Regions from separate parts of the Homo sapiens genome. Here region 1 is linked to region 2. The links come from fine-mapping of genetic effects on gene expression. A gene starts in region 2. The other region holds a variant in brackets. All regions are shown on one strand. Distances are between the middles of the regions.

Evidence for each region. PIP is the estimated chance that this variant, and not a neighbour inherited with it, causes the effect. A credible set is the group of variants that fine-mapping cannot tell apart.
Region 1: its variant is the best candidate, but not a certain one, in a credible set for the expression of NALF2 in tibial nerve (GTEx, PIP 0.63).

Annotation. Positions count from the first base shown.
Region 1 is chrX:69,435,278-69,438,077 of GRCh38, forward strand. No RefSeq gene overlaps it. Among named protein-coding and RNA genes, the nearest start is that of NALF2, 68 kb to the right of the region's middle. The variant G/A (reference allele first, on the strand shown) is at 1,406.
Region 2 is chrX:69,502,884-69,505,683 of GRCh38, forward strand. It overlaps NALF2 (NALCN channel auxiliary factor 2), which reads left to right and starts at 1,443. Exons shown (of 3, transcript NM_015686.3): 1 at 1,443-2,800. The coding sequence starts at 2,400. RefSeq lists a silencer at 2,396-2,569.

The DNA.
Region 1 (2,800 bases), 68 kb before region 2:
GATGGGGATGGCATTGAATCTATAAATTACCTTGGGCAGTATGGCCATTTTCACAATATTGATTCTTCCTACCCATGAGCATGGAATGTTCTTCCATTTGTTTGTGTCCTCTTTTATTTCGTTGAGCAGTGGTTTGTAGTATCCTTGAAGAGGTCCTTCACATCCCTTGTAAGTTGGATTCCTAGGTATTTTATTCTCTTTGAAGCAATTGTGAGTGGGAGTTCACTCATGATTTGACTCTCTCTTTATCTGTTATTGGTGTATAAGAATGCTTGTGATTTTTGCACATCGATTTTGTATCCTGAGACTTTGCTGAAGTTGCTTACCAGCTTAAGGAGATTTGGGGCTGAGACGATGGGGTTTTCTAAATATACAATCATGTCATCTGCAAACAGGGACAATTTGACTTCCTCTTTTGCTAATTGAATACGCTTTATTTCTTTCTCCTGCCTGATTGCCCTGGCCAGAACTTAAAACACTATGTTGAATAGGAGTGGTGAGAGAGGGCATCCCTGTCTTGTGCCAGTTTTCAAAGGGAATGTTTCCAGGTTTGCCCATTCAGTATGATATTGGCTGTGGGTTTGTCATGAATAGCTCTTATTATTTTGAGATACATCCCATCAATACCTAATTTATTGAGATTTTTTAGCATGAAGGTTGTTGAATTTTGTCAAAGGCCTTTTCTGCATCTATTGAGATAATCATGTGGTTTTTGTCTTTGGTTCTGTTTATATGCTGGATTGTGTTTATTGATTTTTGTATGTTGAACCAACCTTGCATCCCAGGGATGAAGCCCACTTGATCATGGTGGATAAGCTTTTTGATGTGCTGCTGGATTCAGTTTGCCAGTATTTTATTGAGGATTTTCGCATCAATGTTCATCAGGGATATTGGTCTAAAATTCTCTTTTTTTGTTGTGTCTCTGTCAGGCTTTGGTATCAGGATGATGCTGGCCTCATAAAATGAGTTAGGGAGGATTCCCTCTTTTTCTATTGATTGGAATAGTTTCATAAGGAGTGGTACCAGCTCCTCCTTCTACCAGAGGTACAAGGAGGATCTTTTGCTTTTTGATAATAGCCATCCTAACTGATGTGAGACTGTATCTCATTGTGATTTTGATGTGCATTTCCCTGATGATTAGTGATGTTGAACATCTTTCCATATACCGGATGTCCATCTGTATATCTTCTTTGGAGAAATGTCTATTCAAGTCCTTTGCCCATTTTTAAACCGGTTTTTTTTAATTGAGCTGTAGGGCGTTCTTATGTATTTTGTATATTTTTGTTTGTTTTACATTTGGAATTTAATTTTTATTTTATTATTTTTTGGCTTAAACTTTTTTATTTTAGGTTTGAGAGTACATATGAAGGTTTGTTATACACATAAACATGTGTCATGGGGGTTC[G/A]TTGTATATATTACACCACCCAGGTATTAAGCTCAGTACCCAATAGTTACCTTTACTGCTCCTCTCCCCCAGCCTACCCACCCCCCTCAAGTAGATCTCACTGTCTGTTGTTTCCTTCTTTGTGTTCATAAGTACTTATCATTTAGCTCCCACTTATAAGTGAGAAAATGCAGTATTTGTTTTTCTTTTCCTATGTTAGTTTGCTAAGGATGATAGCTTCCAGCTTCATCCATGTTACCACAAAAGACATTATCTCATTCTTTTTTATGGCTGCATAATATTCCATGGTGTATATGTACCACATTTTCTTTATCCAGTCAGTCATTGATGGACATTTAGGTTGATTCCATGTCTTTGCTATTGTGAACAGTGCTGCAATGAACATTTGCATGCATGTGTCTTAATGGTAGATTGCTTTATATTCCTCTGAGTACATACCCAGTAATGGGATTGCTGGGTCAAATGGTAGTTTTGATTTTAGCTCTTTGAGGAATTTCCATAGTGCTTTCCACAATGTTTAAACTAATTTACACTCCCACCAACAGTGTATAAGGGTTCCCTTTTCTCCGCAACCTCATCAGCATCTGTTATTTTTGATTCTTTAATAATAGCAATTCTGACTGTTGTAAGATGGTATCTCATTGTGGTTTTGATTTGCATTTCTCTAATGATCAGTGATATTGGGCTTTTTTTTTCATATGCTTATTGGCTATGTGTATGTTGTCTTTTGAGAAGTGTCTGTTCATGGCCTTTGCCCACTTTTTAAATGGGGTTTTTTGTTTTTCTCTTGTAAGTTTGTTTAAACACCATATAAATGCTGGATATTAGACCTTTGTCAGATCCATAGTTTGCAAATATTTTCTTCCATTCTGTAGGTTGTCTGTTTACTCTGTTGATAGTTTATTTTGCTCTGCAGAAGCTCATAAGTTTAATTAGATCCCATTTGTCAATTTTTGCTTTTGTGGCAATTGTTTTTGGTGTCTTGGTCATGAAATCTTTGCCCATTCCTAGGTCCAGGATGGCACAGCCTAGGTTGTCTTCCAGGGTTTTTATAGTTTTGGATTTTACATTTAAGTCTTCAATCCATCTTGAGTTGAGTTTGTGTATGGTGTAAGGAAGGGGTCCATCCTCAATCTTCTGCATATGACTAGCCAGTTATCCCAGCACCATTTATTGAATAGGAAGTCTTTTCTCCCTTGCTTGTTTTTGTCAGCTTTGTCAAAGATCAGATGGTCATAGATGTGCAGCCTTATTTCTGGACCCTCTATTCTATCCCATTGTTCCATGTGCCTGTTTTAGTACCAGTACCATACTATTTTGGTCACTGTGGCCTTGTAGTATAGTTTGAAGTCAGGTAATGTATTTCCTCCTATTTTGTTCTTTTTGCTTAGCATT
Region 2 (2,800 bases):
TGCTACTTTAGAAACTAGCTCCATTTGTCCCTCTTCCAGAAACCTTTTATGTACCCACCCCAGTCCACCTCTGAGTAGTGCTAACGATGCCCACCCATTTCATTTGATCCTTGGCATCCCTTCGTGTTACTCAGGGGAAAACCAAGACTCAGAAAAGGAAAAGACTCTCAAGGGTACACAGCATATCAGCAGTTGAGTTATTTATCCAAGGCTCTAGTTCATGAATCCTCCCACTAGCCAATATACATGTCTTGTTTCCTTATATAGACTATAATTTCCTTTAAGGAAGGAATGCCTTGGCTCTTTCATCTTTCCAGGGCCTTACTGGAGTGTTAAGAGAATTCTAGAGTCAGACTGAGTTTCTTTTTTAGCTGCTCTGGTTACTTTAGGCAACAACCACACTAAACCTCAGCTTCTTTGTATGTAAATGAAGATAACAGTAGTACCTATCTCATAACACTGTTGTGAAGATTGGATGACGAATGCATGCAAAATGTATAGAGCAGTACCTAGCACATAGTACGCGCTCAATTAAGGCTATTTTCTTTATTGTTATTCTTAACATTAACAAATGCTTGCCGGCAACGGTTGACAAAAAATTACAATGTGAGTTACTGGGAGTGAGGAAGGCAAGCAGACCACAGGGTCAGTGGAGTCCAAACAAGGTTAGTGGCGCGTCAGGATGTTTGTACGTCCGAATTCCTAGTGCCATGTGACTCTGTGAGGGCCCAAGCACATGGTTCCATCCGGGCGGCGCAGCTTCTCTAACTCTCAGTCAGCTATTCTCAGCAGCCTGTAGGGGGAGCCAAAAAGCTAGGACGGGGGCTGGTGCTTGGGTGGGGGGCGGGCGGGTGGGGGGTGGAGGCTGCTGGAAATATTCCTAAGGGCAAACACCGACACCCCACCACTACTATCTTAGCCCACCGCCTTGCCCCCTCCAGGACGCTCTCCAAACTCAGTCTTCCTCAGCAGCTAAGCTGGGAGCTGTCCTTCAGCACCAAGGGCCGCCTTGTCCTCGGGCAGGACGGTGAGGGCGAAGGTGGAGTTAGGGACACTGGACTGGTCCGATCCGCAGCCGGCTCGAGCGTCTTCCAGTCACGGGGACGGCGGAGGCGACCCAGAGAGGCAGCAAGCAGCTACGAGATGCCTGCTGCTCCTTGCCTCCAAGAATCACCCTCAGAAGTCCCCTAGCCCTCGGGGGAGTGAGGGACGGCCATGGAGAGGAAGGCGGGCGCCCGGGTTAGTGGGGGAGGGGGAGCGCCGAGGCCTGGGACTCAGCGTGTGGCATGTGCACGCGGGCAGCGGGCGGATGAACGGAGGCGCTGAAGTGAATGGAGTTGGGGGTGGACTGGAAACATCCCCAAACAGCACCGGCTGCGGCCGGCGGGGGCTGGGGCGGGGTGGGGTGGGGGGAGTCCTGAGGCGCAGGCGCAGTCGGGGCACCAGTCCCGCTCCCTCCTCCTCTCCGTGCCTCTTTCTCCGCCCTGCTCCCCGCCAAACACACTTGCACAGGGGCTCTCAAGGTGTTCTCCGCACAGCGGAAGATGGCGACAGACTGAGGGTGCATGGCCAGCGGGAGCCACGGGGCCGTGCCGCTGGGCTGCAGCCACAGCGGTGCGAACGAGAGGCGGAAGCGAGAGGCGCACTAAGTAAAGCCCGGTGTCTGCGTCCGGCGCCTGTGGCGCTGCCGGGAGCCAGGTGGCCCGCCCGAGCCGGAACTCCAGGAGCAGCGGGTGCGGAGCCAGAGCGGAGCCCGCCAGGGACTGGCCCCGGCGAACACCCGGAGCGCGAACGAAGCCCGAAGGGCCCGGCAACGGACCGGCCGGCCGGCCTAGGAGGGCGCGAGCGAGGCAGGGAGCGGCGTGGAGCGGGCAGCGGGCGGACGGGCGGGAGCGGAGCGGCGCGGGGCGAGGGGAGCGGAGCGGAGCGCGGCGGCGGGGCCCGCACGGCGGCGCTGAGGGGCGCAGAGCTGCGCCGAACCGAGACGGCCGGTTTGGAGTGCGAGCCGGGCGGCCGCCGGCGCGGAGTGAAGTGGCACGGAGCCGAGGGCAGCTGAGGGGCCCGACACTATGAGGAGTGCGGCGCCGCCGCCGCAGCCGCCACCGCCCCAGTGCCCCGCACCGCCCCCAGCCGGGACGCCGGGCAGCGCCTAGCGGGCCGGGCGGCGGCGCCCGGGCTGAGAGCGACGGAGCGCGGGAGCGGCGCGGAGACGGCACCAGAGCGCCCCGCGACTCCGGCCTGAGCGGGGCATCGCGCCGGCCGGCCTGCCTCACCATGCAGCCCCCGAGGTAGAGCCTGGACGGCGCCGAGGAGCGCAGAGCGGCGCGCAGCCCGCCCGCCCCAGACGGCCGTCTGGCCTCGCGCCTGCCTGTTCCCTCCAGCCCGGACCCCCCTGAAATATGTTCAGGGGCGCTTGGATGTGGCCCGGGAAAGACGCCGCCGCGCTGACTATCTGCTGCTGCTGCTGCTGCTGGGCTCCCAGGCCGAGCGACAAACCTTGCGCCGACTCCGAGCGGGCGCAGCGATGGCGACTGTCCCTGGCGTCCCTGCTCTTCTTCACCGTGCTGCTCGCTGACCATCTGTGGCTGTGCGCGGGGGCCCGGCCCCGGGCCAGGGAGCTGAGCAGCGCCATGCGGCCCCCATGGGGGGCCGGCCGGGAGCGGCAGCCGGTGCCTCCTCGCGCGGTGCTGCCGCTGCCGCCGCCGCCGCCCGGCGAGCCCAGCGCGCCCCCAGGCACCTGCGGCCCCAGATACAGCAACCTGACCAAAGCCGCCCCCGCCGCCGGCTCTCGGCCGGTCTG